2 separate regions of the Homo sapiens genome follow, and region 2 is linked to region 1. Evidence: fine-mapped expression QTL. A gene starts in region 1. The other region holds a variant in brackets. All regions are shown on one strand. Distances are from middle to middle. Region 1 holds the start of TXNIP (thioredoxin interacting protein). Region 2 overlaps POLR3GL (RNA polymerase III subunit GL).

Region 1 (12,316 bases):
CAGCATTTTGGGAGGCCAAGGCAGGTGGATCACCTGAGGTCAGAAGTTCAAGACCAGCCTGGCCAAAAAGGTGAAACCCCACCTCTACTAAAAATACAAAAAATTAGCTGGGCATGGTGGTGGGTGCCTATAATCCCAGCTACTAGGGAGGCTGAGACAGGTGAATCACTTGAACCTGGGAGGTGGAGGTTGCAGCGAGCCGAGATCACGCCACCGCACTCCAGCCTGGGTGACAGAGTAAGACCTTGTCTCAAAAGTAAATAGATAAGTAAATAAAGCTAATTACAAAAAAAAGAAAAGAAAAAGAACTACCTTTAGGAAGTTATTGTAAGGGCCTTCAGAAAAGAAAAAAAACTTTTTTAGGTTTTTTTTTTGTAGACGGAGTTTTGCTCTTGTTGCCCAGGCTGGAGTGCAATCTTGACTCACTGCAACCTCCACCTCCCAGGTTCAAGCTATTCTCTTGCCTCAGCCTCCTGAGTAACTGGGATTACAGGCATGCGCCACCACACCTGGCTAATTTTGTATTATTAGTAGAGACGGGGTTACTCCTTGTTGGTCAGGCTGGTCTCAAACTCCTGACCTCAGTTGATCTGCCTGCCTCGACCTCCCAAAATGCTGGGATTACAGGCGTGAGCCACCACGCCCAGCCAAAAAGAACTATCTTAAATGAGCCTACAATACCTCCAAACAAGTTAATTCAGCCCCTCTCCCCATCTTGCCATGACATTGGACAATACTGAGATCTCTATCCTTTGCTTATCATGGTAGAAAAATTGATCTCAGTAAACACGAAATGTGGGCCTCCAGATGAGATATTTTTAAAAGTTAAAACTAAATTAACAAACAAGATTGGACATGGTGGCTCATATCTATAATTCCAGCACTTTGGGAGGCCAAGGTGGGTGGATAGCTTGAGCCCAGGTGTTCCAGACCAGCCCAGGCAACATGGCAAGACTCCATCTCTACCAAAATATATGAAAATTAGCCCGGCATGTGCCTGTAGTCCCAGCTGACTCAAGAGGCCAAGGTGGAAGGATCACCTCAGCCCTGGAGGTTGAGGTTACAGTGAGACATGGTCATGTCACTGCACTCCAGCCTGGTGATGAAGTAAGACCCTTTCTCAAAAAAAAAAATTAGCTGAGTATGGTGTGTGTTCCTAGTAGTTCCCGCTACTGAGCTATGCTTGTGCCACTGTACTCCAGTCTGGGCAACAACAAAATAAACAAATAGATAATAAAGAGAATCCTGGGTTTGGAGAGTGGCTCCACCAGATACTAGCTTATGTCCCAGGTCAAGTCACTTAACCAAAATAAGAACTGGTTTTAAAAAAATAAAAGACTGCTACAGTCCCATTTAACTCTAAAATTCTCTGAGTCTTGCCCTGAATCCTTTATTAGACTATTGTGAGAATCAAACAAGATACTGTGTATCAAAGCACTGAGAGCCAAGACAACACATTTTTATAGTACATACTTTTAGACAGACATGGGCGGGTTCAAGATCTTGCTCTACTTACAAAATCTGTGACCTCAGGCAAATTACTTCACTTCTGAGCCTGACTGAACCAACACCGAGTCACAAGGTTATTGAGAGAATTAAATGAAACAATCTAACCTCAAATACTTTCTTTTTTTTTTTTTTTGAGACGGAGTCTCGCTCTGTCGCCCAGGCGGGAGTGCAGTGGCGCAATCTCGGCTCACTGCAAACTCCGCCTCCCGGGTTCACGCCATTCTCCTGCCTCAGCCTCCCGAGTAACTGGAACTACAGGCGCCCACCATCACGCCCGGCTAATTTTTTTTGTATTTTTAGTAGAGACGGGGTTTCACCGTGTTAGCCAGGATGGTCTCGATCTCCTGACCTCGTGATCCGCCCGCCTCGGCCTCCCAAAGTGCTGGGATTACAAGCGTGAGCCACCGCGCCCGGCCAACCTCAAATACTTTCTAGAACAACATGACAGATGACAGATAATTATCACTGACATAATTATATAAAAGACTTGGTTCATTATAGGTGCTCAATAAATGGCAATTACTTAAAAAGTCACTTGGAACTCTAACATGCTATACAATTCTTTTTTTTTTTTTGAGATGGAGTCTCACTTTGTCGCCCAGGCTGGAGTGCAGTGGCGAGATCTCGGCTCACTGCAAGCTCCACCTCCCAGGTTCACGCCATTCTCCTGCCTCAGCCTCCCGAGTAGCTGGGACTATAGGCGCCTGCCACCACACCCGGCTAATTTTTTGTATTTTTAGTAGAGACGGGGTTTCACTGTGTTAGCCAGGATGGTCTCAATCTCCTGACCTCGTGATTTGCCTGCCTCAGCCTCCCAAAGTGCTGGGATTACAGGCGTGAGCCACCGCGCCCAGCCTTTTTTTTTTTTTTTAAAGAGAGATGGGGTCTCACTACAATGCCCAGGGTGATCTTCTTGAATTCCTGGCCTCAAGTGATCTTCCCATTTCAGCCTCCCAAAGTGCTGGGATTACAGGCATGAGCCACCACACCTGGCTTACAATTGTTAATTTATTCTTATTGATCTATGACTTGGGGCAGTCTTCAAACTCTTAATTTGCCTCTAAATTCCTTAGGGAAAAAATTGAAAGGGAAAAGGGTGCCTATAATCCCAGCACTTTGGGAGGCCGAGGTAGGCGGACTGCTTGAGCAGGAGTTTGAGACCAGCCTGGCCAACATGGTGAAACCCCATCTCTACCAAAAATACAAAAATTACCTAGGCGTGGTGGAGCACATCTGTAGTCCCAGCTACTCGGGAGGCTGAGGTGGGAGAATCACTTGAGCCTGGGATGCGGAGGTTTCAGTGAGCCAAGTGACACTGCATTCCAACCTGGTTGAGAGTGAGACCCTATGTGGAAAAAAAAAGAGAGAGAGAAAGGAAAATGGGTAAGGGTAAAAGGGAAGTTTACAGAGTAGAGGTGAGAGAAGTGATTAAAAGGACCAAGAAAGGGCTTTGTTCTGCATTAAGAACTATGAGTCTTCATGTTCTAAATGTTTGTCAGGCCAGAGGTTAAAGAAAAGAGAAATGCAATCAGTGTCTTGTCTCTGACTGGCAACAAAGTGCTGAGGGCACTTCCCTCCCTGAAACTGCTGGCTTTATTCTGTCACCTGCAGTAAAGCAAACAAACAACAATCACCACTTGGTTTCCTGTTGGCACTGGGACTGAAGAGGGTAGAGAAGGGGCAGATAAAGATGATCCAACTTGCAAAACTCTTTGACTGTGCCCTACTTTGCTGTTCCTCCTTGGCCCACCCCTTTTCCCAAACCTCACAAGTGTTTTTATACCCTGATTTTAGGACAAGAGTTTACAAAATTTCTTTCTTCTTAGACCCAAGAACTGGGAAAGGAGAATCGGGGCAGGTTTTTATCAGAATACCAGGTTACAAGGTGAAAGGTCGTAAACAACCGTGTCCAGGAGGACTCCACTTCAGAACATGCCTTGGCTACAGGCCTGGTAGGCAGCAGCTGCTGCCAAAGCTAAATAATTTTTTGGCATTTAAAGGAACCCAGGCATAACACAGAGCAACGTAGTCTGTAGTGAGCTCTGCAAATGGGAAGATACAAGGAAACCAGAGCCCAGAAGAGAAACTTAGAACGAGAGAATTGTCATAGGATTTTTTAAAACTCAGCAATTCAGTACTTCAGAGATGTGCCCACATAAATATCAAATAAATTGAAAGGGAAAAGGGTGCCTATAATCCCAGCACTTTGGGAGGCCAGGTAGGCGGACTGCTTGAGCAGGAGTTTGAGACCAGCCTGGCCAACATGGTGAAACCCCATCTCTACCAAAAATACAAAAATTACCTAGGCGTGGTGGAGCACATCTGTAGTCCCGGCTACTCGGGAGGCTGAGGTGGGAGAATCACTTGAGCCTGGGATGTGGAGGTTTCAGTGAGCCAAGTGACACTGCATTCCAACCTGGTTGAGAGTTGGATGTCTTAAGATGTCCCATATTACCACCACCCTGATCCATCACTAGCCACCATCTTTCCTATTCCCTCAAAATGTATGTAGTTAAGATTTAACAATATTTAACAATATTGACTATGTAGTTAACAATATTGATTCATATATTTGTCAGCATTTTGATGTTTGATAGTTACACTTTCATACCCATCAAACTAAACGTTCTCCCAGAAGCCACAATTTTGAACTTTTAAAATTACTTCAGTCAGGCCAGGCACGGTGGCTCACGCCTGTAATCCCAGCACTTTGGGAGGCCAAGGCGGGTGGATCACCTGAGGTCAGGAGGAGTTCAAGACCATCTTGGGCAACATGGTGAAACCCCATCTCTACTAAAAATACAAAAATTAGCTGGGCGTGGTGATGCATGCCTGTAATGCCAGGTACTCAGGAGGCTGAGGCGGAGAATCGCTCTAACCCAGGAGGCAGAGGTTGCAGTGAGCTGGGGTCAGGCCACTGCACTCCAGCCTAGGCAACAGAGCAAGATTCCACCTTAAAAAAAAAATTACTTCAGTCAGAGTTCCACCTCCTCTGCTCCCAGTAACTCAATCAATATTGTTAACCAACTGAAAACACCTCAAGCCTAGCTGGTTAAGTTTCTAGAACAGGGTGCCGCCTCAAACACACCCTAAGGATCAACATGTTCCTGGGGTTTAATGCATGTGTGTGTTTTCGAAGAGACTCATGATGCCTATTCTTGAGCTTGCTTAATATTGGGGTTGAGTTGTAACTCTCGTTAGCCTTAGAGTGTCAATCCAGCTAGGCTGTCTGAGGAAGGAAGAAGGCTCTTTAACAGCAATGAATATTGTTTTTTTTTTGCTGATTGGGTAGGGTTTCAATATACTTGAATGCTTCTTAATTACCTCCCCATCTCAATCTTGGGACATTATCTTCCTCTTTCCAGCACAAGGAATTAAATAATAATCTTCTGATACCCCAGCACAGATATAGGAAGGGTCTATGAATCAAATAAAAGGAGGAAGAATCCCTGCACTTTTGCATACAGGTTTTTCCTATTACATTTAAGAGTAAGTTCTCAGTACTCAGCTCCTAAAGCATCTCACAGCCAGCAGGGGAAAATCCATCTGACAGCTGGCCAAACGAAACCAACAAAGAATGAAGAGAGAGGGTAGGGTCTCTTCTGGCTTGAATTTATAGTGCTCTGTTGACCGATCTTTCTTCTCTTTTCCTTCTTACTGTTTTCTAAACCGTTTAGGGAAAAACCTTTGAAAATAGTTTTTAAAATTGTTCCTTCAAACAGGTGTGTGGCCATCTCTCCACTGAAAATTTGGATATAAACAAGAGGACTTTCTCACTTTTAACCAGATTTATGGATGTACATTTGATTTAGTGAGTTGGAAGAGGGGATGGAGACAAGAAAGAGTGAACATAACTGGAAAAAAGTGAAAAGAGTGAAGCATCCTTTTTTTCCCGCTTTTCCTTTTCCTCCAGAAGCAGGTAGGAAGTGGGAGATAATGAGCGCCTGGACACACCTCACTAAAGAGGTAATGAGGTAAATGGGGAACACAGACAAAGTGTTCCCCAACTTTGCAGGTAGAAATTGAAGAGATGACAGGATAAGCAACAGGATGTAAACACGCCCCTCCTATTTCCGTTCCACAGAACAGAGAGAACAGAAGAGAGGGTACAAGCTGGGGGTGGGTGACGAACAGCACAGGCACGCAGCCCCCAGCCCTAGCCCCAAGGGATTGGAACGGGAAGGAGAAGACATCGGTCCTACACACACAATGAGGCCTGAAAGTTCTCCTTTCCCTCAGAGACGGTGGTGTTTTTTATACTTAATAGGGATGCGGGGCAAGAGAAGGACAAAGGGCTGTTCCTGAACAGTAACACCAAGCATTCTGCGCTCCACAGCCCCAAACCTGAAAGTATTCTTGGAGCTATGGGATTTTCACACACTTGCTATTTATGAGCCAGGAATAACGACAGGCTCTAAAGTAACTGCACTGGCTAAGACTAGGCATGAAATTCCCTCATAAGCACATTTTCCTTTTACCTCAAAACACCGCTCTCAGACCAGAAACGTCCACACCCGCCCTCCGATGGCCTGTCGCCCTGGCTAGGTTTTAGGGTCAGTGGGATCCTCCTTCCACTGGACCCGGGAGAAGACGCTCAACAGCCCCCTCCTTCCCCTCCTTCCTCTCCTTCCTCTCCTTCCCCCCTCCCTGCGCCGCTCCAGAGCGCAACAACCATTTTCCCAGCCAGGAGCACACCGTGTCCACGCGCCACAGCGATCTCACTGATTGGTCGGGCTCCTGGTAAACAAGGACCGGGCAGCCAATGGGAGGGATGTGCACGAGGGCAGCACGAGCCTCCGGGCCAGCGCTCGCGTGGCTCTTCTGGCCCGGGCTACTATATAGAGACGTTTCCGCCTCCTGCTTGAAACTAACCCCTCTTTTTCTCCAAAGGAGTGCTTGTGGAGATCGGATCTTTTCTCCAGCAATTGGGGGAAAGAAGGCTTTTTCTCTGAATTAGCTTAGTGTAACCAGCGGCGTATATTTTTTAGGCGCCTTTTCGAAAACCTAGTAGTTAATATTCATTTGTTTAAATCTTATTTTATTTTTAAGCTCAAACTGCTTAAGAATACCTTAATTCCTTAAAGTGAAATAATTTTTTGCAAAGGGGTTTCCTCGATTTGGAGCTTTTTTTTTCTTCCACCGTCATTTCTAACTCTTAAAACCAACTCAGTTCCATCATGGTGATGTTCAAGAAGATCAAGTCTTTTGAGGTGGTCTTTAACGACCCTGAAAAGGTGTACGGCAGTGGCGAGAAGGTGGCTGGCCGGGTGATAGTGGAGGTGTGTGAAGTTACTCGTGTCAAAGCCGTTAGGATCCTGGCTTGCGGAGTGGCTAAAGTGCTTTGGATGCAGGGATCCCAGCAGTGCAAACAGACTTCGGAGTACCTGCGCTATGAAGACACGCTTCTTCTGGAAGACCAGCCAACAGGTAAGCGGCCCAATTCATTGTTGGAGGGTGAAAGCTGATTAGAGAAGAGAATTGAATACACAAAACCTGTACGAAATGTTTTAAGTTGCTCAGTTTGAGTGGTTTGAATTACGTGTTGTTGCTTCCTTTTTTCTGTTTTAATTTGCAGACATTCTCCTCCCCCCCCAAAAAAAAGGGTGATTTGTACAATTTTTTATGGTGCTGTGTCCTAAAGGGGATCCTGAGGGGCGTTGCCTCGGGTAGTTAAAGTCTTATGTGTGCATAAGTTGCTTATTCTTTGTCTACTTCCTATTTGAGATGTTAGTAGAGAACTGTCCTGGGTGAATCTTTCAGTATTGCAGGGCTTGGCAACTTGCTGCCCGACAAAATACATCAGAATTTCTCTTTAAGAACAATATGGGATGGATTAAAAAATATATATATGGGATGAAATTGGGGGTACTTCAATACCTTGCATGCCACCCAAGCATTCCTTATCACACAGATGCATTTTAAGTGTAACAGCAAGCCTAATGGCTACTCGATTTTCTTTCCCTTCAGGTGAGAATGAGATGGTGATCATGAGACCTGGAAACAAATATGAGTACAAGTTCGGCTTTGAGCTTCCTCAGGGGTAAATATCAGCTAAATGCATCTTTGAACTTTTCTGTCTAAAATATCTTGCCCTCCTTTGATCACTTACTGTTCTTGGAGAGCGTTTTAAAATTTTCATTTTCTTGACACAGGCCTCTGGGAACATCCTTCAAAGGAAAATATGGGTGTGTAGACTACTGGGTGAAGGCTTTTCTTGACCGCCCGAGCCAGCCAACTCAAGAGACAAAGAAAAACTTTGAAGTAGTGGATCTGGTGGATGTCAATACCCCTGATTTAATGGTGAGATCCATTTTAAAGATTCTATTCTCCTGGGTCATGAGGATGATAAATCAGACGTCTTGGGCATTAGATTGAAGCATCTCAAAACACCTTTTTATCCCCTTCTATATAGGCACCTGTGTCTGCTAAAAAAGAAAAGAAAGTTTCCTGCATGTTCATTCCTGATGGGCGGGTGTCTGTCTCTGCTCGAATTGACAGAAAAGGATTCTGTGAAGGTAAAATCCTAGTGCTTATGGCAGTTAAAACAGGAACTGGGTTTAGGGGCAAGGGCATGGGACTGGGGTAGAGGAAGTGTCATTAACTATACTGAGTATCAGTAAGTTTTCATCTTTCTCATTGCTAGGTGATGAGATTTCCATCCATGCTGACTTTGAGAATACATGTTCCCGAATTGTGGTCCCCAAAGCTGCCATTGTGGCCCGCCACACTTACCTTGCCAATGGCCAGACCAAGGTGCTGACTCAGAAGTTGTCATCAGTCAGAGGCAATCATATTATCTCAGGGACATGCGCATCATGGCGTGGCAAGAGCCTTCGGGTTCAGAAGATCAGGCCTTCTATCCTGGGCTGCAACATCCTTCGAGTTGAATATTCCTTACTGGTGGGTAGATGCAGGGTGGCTTCAGCAGAGAAATTGTTCATCTGTTACCACAGCTGTCTTGTTTCTCCAGACCTCTGGTGTAATAAACTGCCATCTTCCTTTCTAGATCTATGTTAGCGTTCCTGGATCCAAGAAGGTCATCCTTGACCTGCCCCTGGTAATTGGCAGCAGATCAGGTCTAAGCAGCAGAACATCCAGCATGGCCAGCCGAACCAGCTCTGAGATGAGTTGGGTAGATCTGAACATCCCTGATACCCCAGAAGGTGAGCCAGACCTAATGTCTTTTCTTTGTTTCTGGTCTACCTGGGTTTGTAAAATTGTGATGGTCCAGCATTTCTTGGGCAGGATTCTTATGTGGCCATATTTTCTTTTCTAGCTCCTCCCTGCTATATGGATGTCATTCCTGAAGATCACCGATTGGAGAGCCCAACCACTCCTCTGCTAGATGACATGGATGGCTCTCAAGACAGCCCTATCTTTATGTATGCCCCTGAGTTCAAGTTCATGCCACCACCGACTTATACTGAGGTGAGGATTGTCATCTTTACTGTTAAATTTGTCCTAAGCTTTCTATAAGAAGTTGACTTAGACGGATTGCTAAACTGGTTTGTTCTTTTTGTTCTTACCTGAACTGAAATAGTCTGTTTCTTTCTTTAGGTGGATCCCTGCATCCTCAACAACAATGTGCAGTGAGCATGTGGAAGAAAAGAAGCAGCTTTACCTACTTGTTTCTTTTTGTCTCTCTTCCTGGACACTCACTTTTTCAGAGACTCAACAGTCTCTGCAATGGAGTGTGGGTCCACCTTAGCCTCTGACTTCCTAATGTAGGAGGTGGTCAGCAGGCAATCTCCTGGGCCTTAAAGGATGCGGACTCATCCTCAGCCAGCGCCCATGTTGTGATACAGGGGTGTTTGTTGGATGGGTTTAAAAATAACTAGAAAAACTCAGGCCCATCCATTTTCTCAGATCTCCTTGAAAATTGAGGCCTTTTCGATAGTTTCGGGTCAGGTAAAAATGGCCTCCTGGCGTAAGCTTTTCAAGGTTTTTTGGAGGCTTTTTGTAAATTGTGATAGGAACTTTGGACCTTGAACTTACGTATCATGTGGAGAAGAGCCAATTTAACAAACTAGGAAGATGAAAAGGGAAATTGTGGCCAAAACTTTGGGAAAAGGAGGTTCTTAAAATCAGTGTTTCCCCTTTGTGCACTTGTAGAAAAAAAAGAAAAACCTTCTAGAGCTGATTTGATGGACAATGGAGAGAGCTTTCCCTGTGATTATAAAAAAGGAAGCTAGCTGCTCTACGGTCATCTTTGCTTAGAGTATACTTTAACCTGGCTTTTAAAGCAGTAGTAACTGCCCCACCAAAGGTCTTAAAAGCCATTTTTGGAGCCTATTGCACTGTGTTCTCCTACTGCAAATATTTTCATATGGGAGGATGGTTTTCTCTTCATGTAAGTCCTTGGAATTGATTCTAAGGTGATGTTCTTAGCACTTTAATTCCTGTCAAATTTTTTGTTCTCCCCTTCTGCCATCTTAAATGTAAGCTGAAACTGGTCTACTGTGTCTCTAGGGTTAAGCCAAAAGACAAAAAAAATTTTACTACTTTTGAGATTGCCCCAATGTACAGAATTATATAATTCTAACGCTTAAATCATGTGAAAGGGTTGCTGCTGTCAGCCTTGCCCACTGTGACTTCAAACCCAAGGAGGAACTCTTGATCAAGATGCCCAACCCTGTGATCAGAACCTCCAAATACTGCCATGAGAAACTAGAGGGCAGGTCTTCATAAAAGCCCTTTGAACCCCCTTCCTGCCCTGTGTTAGGAGATAGGGATATTGGCCCCTCACTGCAGCTGCCAGCACTTGGTCAGTCACTCTCAGCCATAGCACTTTGTTCACTGTCCTGTGTCAGAGCACTGAGCTCCACCCTTTTCTGAGAGTTATTACAGCCAGAAAGTGTGGGCTGAAGATGGTTGGTTTCATGTTTTTGTATTATGTATCTTTTTGTATGGTAAAGACTATATTTTGTACTTAACCAGATATATTTTTACCCCAGATGGGGATATTCTTTGTAAAAAATGAAAATAAAGTTTTTTTAATGGAAAAAAAAATGTCTGTGAGATGGCTTTGGAAAAGTTTTTGGAAAGAAGGTGTGTCTAAAGGAGTTTTCCTCTACTTAACAATCCACACTAATGAAAACCTTGTGGAGAAAACACTCCCTATGGACCCTAAGGAATGTCGGCAGAGTGGGGGCTAGAAGGTGAAGAGGGAAACCGTTTGAGGCATGTTTCAGATTCACTGAACAACTATACTGGGATTTTCCGGTTGTCTAAACTAGTTTTCCAAATCCATAGGTAATCATTACTAAATTCCTTCAGTTTTGGAGTTCATGGGTTCTTGAAATACAGGGAGATGATGTTTATGAGGGCATTTGAAAGAAAAGAGTGGCGGTTCCTTTTTTTGAGACAGTCTCACTCACCCAGGCTGGAGTGTAGTATGATCTTAGCTCACTGCAGCCTTGATTTCCTGGGCTCAAGTGATCTTCCCATCTCCGCCTCCCACATAGCTGGGCTACAGGCATACACAACTACGTTCAGTTAATTGTGTGTGCGTGTGTGTGTGTGTATGTGTTTGTTTTTTCTACGCTCAGCTAATTTTTTGATTATTTGTAGAGTTCGGGTTTTGCCATGTTGTCCAGGTTGGCCTCAAACTTCTGGGCTCAAGTGATCTGCTGGCCCTGGCCTCCCAAAGAGTTGGGAATACAGGCGTGAGACACCACACTCAGCTGAAGATCCCCTTTTTACAATATGGTTTTATCATAGGGTTTCTTCCCAATGTAAACTTGATTTATATACTAACAAGGATAACTTCAGGACTTAAGAGGTTATAGAGTTATGAGTATTAAATTCTTTGGAGGCAGCTAACCATTTTTTATTTTCACAGTTCCTAACCAAGCACATAACTCAGTAAATGTTTGCTAACTATTCAACTTCACCCTCATCCCTTAGATGATTTGATGGTTCCTATTCCTTGTAGGGTAATAGTAGTAGAGTAATACCACAATCCCATGTTTAATTGGTGTGATTTTCTTTCTTTCTTTCTTTCTTTCTTTTTTTTGAGATAGAGTCTTGCTCTGTCTCCCAGGCTAGAGTGCAGTGGCCCAATCTTGGCTTAATACAATGTCCGCCTCCCAGGTTCAAGCGATTCTGCTACCTCAGACTCTTGAGTAGTTGGGATTACAGGCATGAGCCACCACACTCAGCTAATTTTTGTATTTTTAGTAGAGACGGGGTTTCACCATGTTGGCCAGGCTGGTCTCGAACTCCTGACTTCCCGTGATTCACCCGCCTCAGCCTCCTAAAGTGCTGGGATTACAGGTGTGAGCCATGGCGCCCAGCAGTGATTTTCATTCCTAAAGAACCGACAGGTGGAGAAACCCTGGGATGGCCAATTTAAATATTTGCACAGATCTGGTCCTGGTCCTTATTTGGGAATTGATTTTTCTGAGGACTTCCACAAACTAATTCCAAATAACAGGCTCCTGGAAATTCTACATGAAATCAGTGTGGGGTGTTGTAGCTCTAGCTACTCACAAGGCTGAGGCAAGAGGATCATTCAAGCCCAGAAGTTCTAGGTTACAGTGAGCTATGATTGCACCACTTGCACTCCAGCCTGGGGGACAGATTTTGTCTCAAAAATAAATAAATAATAAGCAAACTAAAATCAATGTGAATTTAACAGAAAGTGAGATTTAAAAGATCCTTTTCCATTTCAATCCTCATTTTTCGTTTATCTTTCATTTTCCATAGCACTCTCCTCCCTCTCTTTGTCTCTCTTTCATTACCAAAGTGTCAGTCTCTATTTCTCCCTATTGCCAGGGTGACTTTCACCTGAACTCTCCGCCCCTTT
Region 2 (12,316 bases), 24 kb after region 1:
CCAGTGTGTCACACCAGACCCGGCTTAGTTAAGCATTTCCTTCATTCCTCCAGCCCTCTGTCACCAGGCCTCACCCACAACAGAGAGACAGATAAAAACACTTTATTTAAAAGTATAAAACCAGGCTTACTCCTTCAAACTGCTCCCACCCCTAATTATCTCCACAAAGAGCTATATAAATTGGGCAGGGGTATGTGTACAGTCATCTCAGCTCTAACAACCCCAGTTCTTCTTTCAATTCTCCTTTCTCCCTTCATACAATTGAGATGTTTGTCCTTTGCACTTTCCCCAAGATAGCAAAGGTGATACAAATGTGGAAGGAGGGGAAGTGTAGAAAATAAACTGTCATCATCCTCTATTCCCATCTCCAGGGAACAGACAGATTATATGAACTCTGACCAAATGATTTGCTTGTCTGAAGAAACAAATAATAGGTACAGTTACTCTCTGTATCCTAAAGAAAGACACGAGGGTCCAGAGTCCTTCTTCAGTATATAGCCTCGTCCATATTGTCATCACTGTCACCACCAAAGTCCTCTCCATTGTCAAAATATGACATGATGTAATCAGTTTCCTGAAATGGAAAAAAAAAAAGTAAAAGTCAATTTGGCATTCACCTTCCTTCCTGTGTACCAGACCCCTTTCCTCTCAGTCACACCATTCCAGGCCTGAGACATCTCTTCCAGCTGTAGTTTGTAGAAGGGGGGCAGATGAAGTAGAGAGAAGCCCCTACCCTGGGGGGCACTATCTCTGTTGGCATGCCAACCCTCTGAGGAGAGCAACCCTAGTATAAAGAGGGTAAAGGGAGGGGGACTAAGGTGGAAGGAGTCCCCTTCACCTCTTCATGTTCTTCTTCATCATACTCTTCTTCTTCCTCCTCTTCCTTCTCTTCTTCTTCTTCTTTCTCCTCATCCTCCTCTGAAGTTACTTCTTCTTCCTTCTTCTCCAGGGTCTCATGTGGGGATGAATAGGAATAGAAACTCAGGTTCAGTTCACAGAAGGGAAAAATTGAGGCACACATGGGCCAAGAGAGAGGGAATGGATCCAGGGCTCAGGAGGTCTCTATGCACACTTCCTCCTCACCTCTAGTTTCTGTATTGTTTCCTCCTTATCTTCTGTGGTCTTAGGGGGCCTCTTGGGGAGCAGAATTGTAATCCCTGGTGGAGGGATCAAAAGGTAAACCTTCAGAGAGCAAATTTTGCCAGCTTTATAGCCCATCCTCATGCAAAGAACATGTCACTCTGCTGCCCTCATGTGGCCACTATGACATCTAGCAACAACACTTGGTAGATTGGGTATAGGAACTGGGATGGAAGGTGAGACCAGCAGCAGCCTCGGCCCTCAGGCTGATGAAGGAAACCTCTCTTCTCCCTCCTTTTTTCCAGATACACTCACGTTCCTTCTGTAGCTTCCGCACTCGGATCTTTAGCTCCCGGGGTAGACGCCGCCAATCTGGGAATAGTGGGAACGTAAATGTCAATAGGACCCTGCCTGGGGTCTCCAGTGAATACTGACTGGTTTTAAAGGGGGGTGAGGGTTTTAAAGGAGAGGAAGGAAGGGGCTGGGCCAAAGTTGTTCAGTGGCTTGGATATCTCCTGAGTAGTGGGAACTATTTAATAGCTTTTTCAGGTAGAATCTGAGAATGTGTTGGACCATAACTAAGGCTCTAGCTTGCAGATGCTGGATCGGGGAATGGGGTGGGGTCATGGGCGTGGTGGGAATAGCTTGAAGCATCCCATGCATTTGAAAGAAGGGCAGTCAATGAAAGGGCCCATCACCTACCAGGGTTCCAATCGATGGCATTGTCAATCGGACCTGACATCTGATATTTGTCTGAATAACGCTCCACATCTGAGGGGTGGAAGGGTCAAAGTTTTATCCCTTCAGAGACCCAGAACAGGACTGTTCCTGAGAGTCCAGCCCTCTCAATACTGAGGAATTATCTGTTTCCTTACCCCAAACCCAGAGCCCAGGGGGTCAGCTTCAGTGAGGACCTTATCTACTTTTTTTTTTTTTTTTTTTGAGACAGAGTCTCGCTCTGTCCCTCAGGCTGGAGTGCAGTGGTACAATCTCAGCTTACTGCAACCTCCACCTCCCAGGTTCAAGCGATTCTCCTGCCTCAGTCTCCTGAGTAGCTGGGACTACAGGCACACACCACCACGCCTAGCTAATTTTTGTATTTTTAGTAGAGACGGGGTTTCACCATGTTGGCCAGGATGGTCTCAATCTCCTGACCTCGTGATCCACCTACCTCGGCCTCCCAAAGTGCTGGGATTACAGGCGTGAATTACTGCGCCCGGCCCCTTATCACTCTTCTAACCTGTTCCTTTTCCACCCAAAATTACGATTTTTTTTTTTCAGACAGAATCTCGCACTGTCGCCTGGGCTGGAGTGCAGTGGCGTGATCTCAGCCCACTGCAACCTCCGCCTCCCAAGTTCAAGCAATTCTTGCCTCAGCCTCCCAAGCAGCTGGGATTAGAGGCATCTGCCACCAGGCCTGGCTAATTTTTTTGTATTTTTTGTAGAGACGGGGTTTCACTATGTTGGCCAAGCTGGTCTTGAACTCCTGACCTCGTGATCTGCCCACCTCAGCCTCCCAAAGTGCTGGGATTCTAGGTGTGAGCCACCACACCTGGCCTTTTTTTTTTGAGACAGAGGTTTGCTGTGTCACCCAGGCTAGAGTGCAGTGGCAAGATCTCAGCTCACTGCAACCTCCACCTCCCAGGTTCAAGCGATTCTCATGCCTCAGCCTCAGCCTCAGCCTCCCGAGTAGCTGAGACCACAGGCACACACCACTGTGCCTGGCTAATTTTTATATTTTTAGTAGAGACAGGGTTTCACCGTATTGGCTAGGCTGGCCTCAAACTCCTGGCCTCAAGTGATCCACCCATGTCAGCCTCCCAAAGTGCTGGCCATTACAGGCGTAAGCCACCGCACCCGGCCATGATGATTTTTTTTTTTTCTGTCCCTTAGTTCAAAGGCATGGCTGTATTAAGAAATAGCGTGGTGCAGTGGAAAGTATGCTAGGGAATAAGAAACCAGGATTTCAGTATTCTCTTGTTGGTTGGTGCTTATAATATCCAGATTGTTAAAAATTTTGCTGGGCGCAGTGGCTCATGCCTGTAATCCCAGCACTTTGGGAGGCCAAGGCAGGAGAATCTCTTGAGCCCAGAAGTTCAAGACCAGCCTGGACAACATAAGGACACCCTATCTCTATTTTACAAAAAAATAAAAAATATATAATTTTTTAGAAAATACATCCCCCTACTTATACACGTGAAATGGGATTTTAATATTTAACCTCCTGCTGTCCCAAGACTATCATGAGACTCAAAACAAACCATGAATACTATAATGCATTTCAGATACAGGGGTAACTATTATGATCTCCCCAGTTAGATAGTATGCTTCCTGTGCCCCTCTGGCCCCCAGTGGTGCTGAGCACAGGGCACTCCCCATGGAAGGCACTCAGAATATGATGCTAGCATTCCAACTGACCTCTCTTGGGGACAGCTGGCCGGATGAAGTAGGGGAGCTGCCTCATGGCTCCTCGTAGCTCTTGCTTCAGTGCCAGGACATATTCCCCTTCCTCGCCTGAGGGCAAAGGTACTGGGCGGAACTCCAAGGGCTAAAGAGGCAGGGGCAGTGGTCAGTTCAGGGAGAAAATGCTAGTACAAATTTAGGAAGACCCCTCCTCCCAATTTAGTCTAACACTCCCACTGAGCAGAGGGCCAAATGACAATCGAGGGAGTAACATATTATTTTGAAAGCTGGGGAGAAGTAAAGGTGGACACTTCTTTGCCTGCAAAACATCCCTGTGCATTGGGAGTATAGAGAGAGGGCCAAAGCGAGGATGGTTTTATGATGGTCCAGGAGGAATTCAGAATCATGTACAGTCAGCCAGGGGCACATGAGAGTCTGGGAAGGGAGTGGAGAGACTCACAGGGAAGAGTGGAGAAGGCTGCAGGGTGGGTGGGGGCAAAGCATCCCCTTTCCCAATGCCCACGGCCTCCACGTTGAAGGTCAACTGGCCCCGGCCACGACCCCGGCCCCCACCCCGGCTGGCCATGGTGGAGGGGGCCTGGGTATTCAGAGATCCAGTGAATAAACCTAATAAAGACAAAAACAAAGAGAAAAAGAAATGTAGTAGAATGGACAGGAAGCCAAGGAGGTACAAGACATTCAATCTTTTATCTCTGGGACATGAAAAGTTAATGTCATTCAACAAATTTTGACTGAGAAGGCACAGTGTCAGAGAGAGAATTTCTGGAAATATAAACATGAATGAGACATGGTCCCCCAAACAGGTCAGATAATTACAATATAGTTTAGCACAAAGGAGAAAGTGCTGACACCTTTGGACAAAACTCTACATCCCTAAGACAATTTGATGTTTATCTCTATCTGCATTTCTTTATTTTTATTTTTAGAGATGCTCTGTCACCCAGGCTTGAGTGCAATGGTGCAATCACAGTTCACTCTAGCCTCGAACCCCTGGGCTCAAGATCCTCCTGCCTCAGCCTCCCAAAGTGCTGGGATTACAGGCATGAACCACTATGCCCAGCCACAAACTGCATTTCTACATATAACCTTTGAATTCTTTCTATCTCTGGCCTTCCAAACCTGACCAGGCCCCAATTCAATCCAATGCAATGCATTCGGCGAAACATTTATTAATCGTCTACCATGAAAAAGATAGTGTGTCAGGCACTGTGGGAGCACAGGGATGAGTCATCAATTTCATTGTAAACCAGGGGAAAAGACACATTACAATCAAATTGATCTTTTTATTTTATTTTATTTGAGATAGGGTCTCTTTCTGTCATCCAGGCTGGAGTGCCGTGGTGTGATCATGGCTCACTGCAGCCTCAACCTCCTGGGCTCAGGTGATCCTCCTGCCTTAGCCTCCCAAGTAGCTGGAGCTACAGGTGTGTGCCACCATGCCTGGCTCTTTTTTTTTTTTTTTTTTTTTTAAGAGACTGGATTTCATTATGTCAAGTGATCCAACTGTCTCAGCCTCCCAAAGTGCTGGGATTACAGGCATGAGCCACCGCGAGAGGCCAAATTGATCTTTTTAAACACCACTTGGAAGCATAGAATCTTAGAATTGGGAGGACCCTTATAGAGGTCATCTAGTCTAAACCCCTCCCAGTGCAGGACTTCACTCTGTAAATTGTTTTGTTGTTGTTTGGTGTATGTGTGTGTCTTCTTTTTTTTTTTCTTGAGACAGAGTCTCACTTTGTTGCCCAGGCTGGAGTGCAGCAGTGCAATCTTGGCTCACTGCAACCTCTGCCTCCCAGGCTCAAGTGATCCTCCTGCCTCAGCTTCCTGAGTAGCTGGGACTACAGGCATGTGCCACCAAGCCTGGCTAATTTTTGTATTTTTTGTAGAGACAGGATTTCGCCATGTCACCCAGGCTGGTCTCGAACTCCTGGACTCAAATGATCCACCTGCTTGGGCTTCCCAAAGTGCTGGGATTACAGGTGTGAGTCACCACCCCTGACCCTACTTTGTGAATTGTTATTCAGCTTTTGGTGGCATTTCCCTAAAGAGATGGTATCCATTCTCCCCCCAAGACAGTATATTCCACTGTGATCAACACTGATGAATCTAAAGTTTCTCCTTCTACCGAATTTTCACTCTGTCTCTTATCATCAATCCTGAGGAACCAGTCAGAGGCAGCTAGGATGGGGGAATAAAATCACCAGATGAAAAGAAAACTTGAGAGAAATGATATCCCAGTAGCAATGAGCACACCTAGCACCCAGATCTTGGTTTCTCATACAATTTTCCAATAAAAGGAACCAGGGCTCTCTGGACTACTAGCTGATTCTAGGACAGGGTAGGAAATATACAACATGAGTCTAGAGCATCTTGAGGTGCCAAAAAGTAAGGAGGTGCTCAAAACAACAACCACACTCACATATTGATGGGTTAGCTGGGTGCAGCGGCTCATTGCTATAATCCCAGCACTTTGAGAGGCTGGAGCGGGCAGATCACTCGAGCCCTAGGAGTTTGAGACCAGTCTGGACAACAGGGCAAAACCTCGTCTTTACAAAAAATACAAAAATTAGCCAGGCATGGTGGCATGCACCCGTGGTCACTGGGTGATCCTTCCCTACTGGGAAGGATTGCTTGAGCCGGGGAGGTTGATGCTGCAATGTTATGATTGCACCACTTGCACTCCAACCTGGGTGGCAGAGTAAAGACTCTGTCTCAAACAAACGAAAAACAAACAAAAAGGAGAAAAAACGAAAAAAATAAACATATTGATGAGGCTATGTCAAAGGGACATAAGAGCCAACTGAAAAAGTTCCCAATGGCCAAAGCTGAAACAATTTGAGGAACAAAATAAATAAAGCAGTATTAGATTATAACCCCAAAGTATAAGATAAATATCTGTGAGTCCATAGTGATATAAATAAATGACTGAATTTATTTATATGGGGGAAAAAAGACAAATCTCTCATGTAGAATTCCAAATAAAATATGTAGACACTCCATCCTAAAAGGGAGCAGGGGAGCATAACTCCCCACTTTTTTTTTTTTTTTTTGAGATGGAGTTTCGCTCTTATTGCCCAGGCTGGAGTACAACGGCACGATCTCGGCTCGCTGCAACCTCCACCTCCCGGGTTCAAGAGATTCTCCTGCCTCAGCCTCCCAAGTAGCTGGGATTACAGGCATGTGCCACCACGCCCGGCTAATTTTGTATTTTTAGTAGAGACGGGGTTTCTCCATGTTGGTCAGGCTGGTCTCAAACTCCCAACCTCAGGTGA[C/T]CCACCCACCTCGGCCTCCCAAAGTGCTGGGATTCAGGCGTGAGCCACCGCACTGGCTATAACTTCCCACTTCTTATGTGTGGACTGTGTATAGGGAATTTCTCTCTCTCTCTCTCTCTATATATATACACACACACACACACACGTATATATATATATATATATATATTTTTTTTTTTTTTTTTTTTTTTTTTGAGACAGAGTCTCACTCTGTCACCCAGGCTGGAGTGCAGTGGCGCAATCTCAGCTCACTGCAACCTCTGCCTCCCGGGTGCAAGCGACTCTCCTGCCTCAGCCTCCTGAATAGCTGGGATTACGGGCGCACGCCACTACGCCCGGCTAATTTTTGTATTTTTAGTAGAGACGGGGTTTCACCATGTTGGTCAGTCTGGTCTTGAACTCCTGATCTCATGATCCGCCTGCCTCGGCCTCCCAAAGTGCTGGGATTACAGGCGTGAGCCACTGCACCCGGCCCTCATTCAATAATTTAGGAAATCAGGAGGAATATCTTTACAGTGGAGAGACCAGAAAAACACTACTTCAACCAGATGACCAAGGTCAGCATCAGTACTCATAAATCATGTTTTCGGTATGTGCCCTTAAAATTACATGATAAAATGGTACTTCACCTCTGTGATCATCCTCCTAAAAACCCATAACCCCACACTAATAAAGAGAAAAATATCAAATTCCAGCAGAAAGGCATCCTACAATATACCCAACTCCTCAAAACTGTCAGTCATCAAAAACAGTAAAGTCTGAGAAACCCGTCACACTTAAGAGGAGCCTAAGGAGACGTGACAACTAAATATAATGTGGAATCCTAAATGGGATTCATGTACAGAAAAAGAGCAATAGGTAAAAACCAAAGAAATGTCAATCAAGTATCAACCTTAGTTAATAATAATGTATCAGTATTCATTCATTAATTGTAACAAATATACGAATCAATTTTTTTTTTTTTTTTTTTTTTGAGATGGAGTTTCGCTCTTGTTGCCCGGCTGGAGTGCAATGGCGCGATCTCGGCTCACTGCAACTTCCGCCTCCCAGGTTCAAGCGATTCTCCTGCCTCAGCCTGCTGAGTACCTGGGATTACAGGCATGCGCCACCACGCCTGGCTAATTTTATACTTTTTTTAGTACAGAGGGGGTTTCTCCATGTTGGTCAGGCTGGTCTCCACCTCCCGACCAGGTGATCCATCCGCCTCGGCCTCCCAAAGTGCTAGATTACAGGCATGAGCCACTGCGCCCGGCATTTTTTTTTTTTTTTTTTTTTTTTTTTTTGAGATGGAGTTTCGCTCTTGTTGCCCGGCTGGAGTGCAATGGCGCGATCTCGGCTCACTGCAACCTCCGCCTCCCGGGTTCAAGCGATTCTCCTGCCTCAGCCTCCCGAGTAGTTGGGATTACAGGAGCCCGCCACCGTGCCCGGCTAATTTGTTTTTGTATTTTTAGTAGAGACGGGGTTTCACCATCTTGGCCAGGTTGGTCTCGAACTCCTGACCTCGTGATCCACCCGCCTCAGCCTCCCAAAGTGCTGGGATTACAGGCGTGAGTCACCGCGGCCGGCCAATCTACAATGTTAATAGGGGAAACTGTGCACTGGGACAAATGGGAACTCTTGGCACTATCTGCTAAATTTTTCCGTAAGTCTTAAATTGTTCTAAAATATATAATCTATTAATTAAAACAAAAACAAAAAACAAAAAAAACTCGAGGCTGGGCGTGGTGGTTCACACCTGTAATCCCAGCACTCTGGGAGGCTGGGGTGGGATGACTACTTAAGTCCAGGAGTTTGAGACCAGCCGGGGCAACATAGTGAGATTCCATCTCTACAAAAAATAAAAAAATTAGCCAGGCATGGTGGCACATGCCAGTAGTCCCAGCTACGTGGGAGACTGAGGTGGAAGGATCGCTTCAGCCCGGGAGATAAGAGGATTCAGTGAGCCATGATCATGTCACTGCACTCACCCTGGGTGACAGAGACCTTGTCTCAAAACAAAAAGCTAAAACAAAAATCAAGTAGCAATTCAAAATTCCCAAGAGATTAGTTGGTGAAAAAAATATTTAAAAATAATATGTAGAAGGTAATCTTCTGTCAGAAATACATACACACATATGAATTAAAAATCTGTTATAGAAGGATATGTACCAAAAATTAACAACGGTTAATTTGAAGGATGAGGGTTTTTTGAATTTTTTCTGGTGGGGAGAGTTGTGTATCTTTTTTTTTTTTTTTTTGAGACAGAGTCTTGCTCTGTCACCCAGGCTGGAGTGGTGCAGTGGTGCAATCTCGGCTCACCGCAGCCTCCACCTTACGGGTTCAAGCAATTCTCCTGCCTCAGCCTCCTGAGTGGCTGGGATTACAGGCACCCACCACCATGCTTAGCTAATTTTTGTATTTTTAGTAGAGAGGGGGTTTTCCCATGTTGGCCAGGCTGGTCTCAAACTCCTGACCTCGTGATCTGCCTGCCTCAGCCTCCCAAAGTGCTGGGATTACAGGCATGAGCCACCATGCCCAGCCAGGTTATGTATGCTTTGTTTTTTTCTATACTGAATAGAATACTATAACAACATTAAAATATTAATTTAAAAATTTTTGGCTGGGCATGGTGGCTCATGCCTGTAATCCCAACACTTTGGGAGGCCGAGGCAGGTGGATCACAAGGTCAAGGGATCGAGAACATCCTGGTCAACATGGCAAAACCCCGTCTCTACTAAAATACAAAAATTAGCTGGGCATGGTGGTGTGCGCCTGTAGTCCCAGCTACTCAGGAAGCTGAGGCAGGAGAATCGCTTGAACCCGGGAGGTGGAGGTTGCAGTGAGCCGAGATGGCGCCACTGCACTCCAGACTGGCAAAAGAGCGAGACTGTGTCTCAAAAAAATTTTTTTTTAATGGGCCAGTTGTGGTGGTTCATGGAGGTAATTTCAGCACTTTGGGAGGCCAGGGCAGAAGGATCACTTGGGCCCAGGCAGTCGAGGCTGCAGTGAGCTATGATCACACCACTGTGCACCAGTCTGGGCAACAGAGTGAGACCGTGTCTCAATAAATAGATAAATAAAATTTAAATGTCGTAACAGAATACTAAATGAGATTAATAATCTGTAGCTAGGAGAGGGTAGAAAAATGTATATCTGAGGAATCTGGGAAGTTTCAAGCCCAACTGCCATAAAAAAAATTGAGGAAACAATGGCTGTTGGTTAAGATATCAAATTGCAATCTGTTTGAAAAGAGCATATTAAGGGAGAGAAGATGTCTCATGGAGACTAGAGAAATAATAAGAATTTGTTGGCTGGGCGTGGTGGCTCATGCTTGTAATCCCAGCACTTTAGGAGGCTGAGGTGGGCGGATCACGAGGTCAGGAGTTCAAGACCAGCCTGACCAACAAAGTGAAACCCCGTCTCTACTAAAAATACAAAAAATTAGCCAGGCGTGGTGGTGCACGCCTGTAATCCCAGCTACTCAGGAGGCCGAGGCAGGAGAATAACTTGAAATCAGGAGGCAGAGGTTGCAGTGAGCCAAGATTGTGCCACTGCACTCCAGCCTGGGCAACAGAGCGAGACTCTGTCTCAAAAAAAAAAAAAAAAGAATTTGTCACCGTGTCTTCAGCCCCTTTTAAGCGAGAGAACATTCTAACCAGCTGGTTAAGTATCTTTCCACTTGACAGATATAGTTCTGGCAGTGGAGATAGGAGCTGCTGTGACTGCAAAGCAATGAAGAGTCAATAAATGGCCATGAGTTTGAGGTTAGACAAATTCCACACCATTTCTACACATTAAATGAGTGATCCTCTAAGAATGCAGGGGAAAAAGAAGACAAAATTTTATTTAATACAGGTTGGGAAATAAACCATCCATCTGCCCCATTCATCTTAGGAATCTATAGGGAGTCTCTGCTATTAAAGATTGTGATGGAGTTAAAATTCTTGAGGATACTTAAGGTCTCCCATAATCTAGTCACAATCTGCTCCTCCTTAACATCAACCTTTCCAGAGAGTTTACCCCTGTACTCTGTTTTACTCCAAACAACACTCATATACACTATGCTCATTCCCAATTATTCATACATATATATTGTGGTGGAAGTTACTGAGAGGCAGGTTTCAACTAAACATACAGAAAAACACTAACAATTACATCAAATTTAAGGAAGGCAGTACATGTAGAGGTTAAGAATATGGTTTTGAATCCCAGTTCAATTTCCTAGCTACAAAACTCTGGTAATTTATTTATTGTCTCTAAACCTGTTTCCTCATCTGTAAAATGGGAATAAAAATAACAATAATAGAATCATTTCACTCAACAAATATTTACTGAGTGCTTACTAGGTGTGCCAGGCACTGTTCTAGATTCTATGGATATAGCAGTGTGCAAAACAGACAAAAACATGCTGCACCCACGGGGTTTAAATGGAGCTTTCATTCCAGTGGAGGCATCAGCAAACAAACAATACTTCAAGCCATGAGACTAGGTGAGACCCCTAAAGGAGTGGATGTGGACAGAGAAAATAAGAAATCCAGGCACTGAGGCCTGGGGCACGCTGATGTGTAGAATTTGCTATACATGTAATAAATAAAGCAAGAAATTAACACCCTTAAAATCTTGGAAATCCAAATTTTAAAAAATCATCTCAATAGAAAAAATGGGCAAAGGACATGAACAGGCAACTGGCAAAGAGAATGGCCATGTCTGGACATGGTGGCTCACTCCTGTAATCCAGGGTTTTGGGAGGCCGAGGTGGACAGATCACTTGAGGCCAGGAGTTCATGACCAGCCTGGGCAACATAGAGAAACCCTGTCTCTACTAAAAATACAAAAAATTAGCCAGGCACAGTGGTACACACCTTTAATTCCAGCTACTCAGGAGGCTGAGGCATGAGACTCACTTGAACACAGGAGGTGGAGGTTGCAGTGAGCTGAGATCTCACCACTGCACTCCAGCTTGGGCAACAGAGCAAGACTGTCTCAAAAAAAAAAAAAAGGAGAGAGAATGGCCAATAAAACCACTCTTCACCTATGAAAGTGACAAAGATTTAAATAATAAGCAGGCTGTCATGAGTTTTTTTTCAAATGGACACTCTCATACCTCACTGGAAAGACTATAAACATAATATTTCAAGGGGAGCAATTTGTCCAGTTAAATCAACAGCCTTTGAAATGTTTATATCCCTAATCCAGCAATCCCACTTTAAAAATATATTCCAAAGACATCAACAGATATACAGTCACAGATATAAGTAAAAGGATATTCATCAAAGAGCTATTTATGGTAGCAAAAATTCTGAAATAACTGAAACAATCTAACAATAAATGAATGGTTAAAAAATACCCATTTTATTTATTTATGTTCTTTTTATTTTATTATTTTTTTTTTGAGACAGTTTCACTCTTGTCGTCCAGGCTGGAGTGCAATGGCGCAATCTCAGCTCACCGCAACCTCCACCTCCTGGGTTCAAGTGATTCTCCTGCCTCAGCCCCCCGAGTAACTGGGATTACAGGCATGCGCCACCATGCCTGGCTAATTTTTTTTGTAGTTTTAGTAG

Evidence for each region. PIP is the estimated chance that this variant, and not a neighbour inherited with it, causes the effect.
Region 2: its variant is fine-mapped to the expression of TXNIP in whole blood (TOPMed, PIP above 0.99).

What each region holds. Positions count from the first base shown.
Region 1 is chr1:145,990,637-146,002,952 of GRCh38, reverse strand. TXNIP (thioredoxin interacting protein) reads left to right here and starts at 6,374. Exons shown (of 8, transcript NM_006472.6): 1 at 6,374-6,936; 2 at 7,477-7,549; 3 at 7,662-7,809; 4 at 7,922-8,024; 5 at 8,153-8,409; 6 at 8,516-8,672; 7 at 8,786-8,937; 8 at 9,067-10,518. The coding sequence starts at 6,687. The coding sequence ends at 9,102. RefSeq lists a silencer at 516-723 and enhancers at 8,295-8,344, 10,166-10,245.
Region 2 is chr1:145,966,619-145,978,934 of GRCh38, reverse strand. POLR3GL (RNA polymerase III subunit GL) reads right to left here. Exons shown (of 8, transcript NM_032305.3): 2 at 3,944-4,110; 3 at 3,499-3,628; 4 at 1,783-1,851; 5 at 1,396-1,452; 6 at 1,084-1,157; 7 at 839-952; 8 at 87-574. The coding sequence starts at 4,069. The coding sequence ends at 488. Among named protein-coding and RNA genes, the nearest start is that of POLR3GL, 8.1 kb to the right of the region's middle. RefSeq lists enhancers at 1-60, 1-433, 1,414-1,503, 2,364-2,863. The variant C/T (reference allele first, on the strand shown) is at 6,777.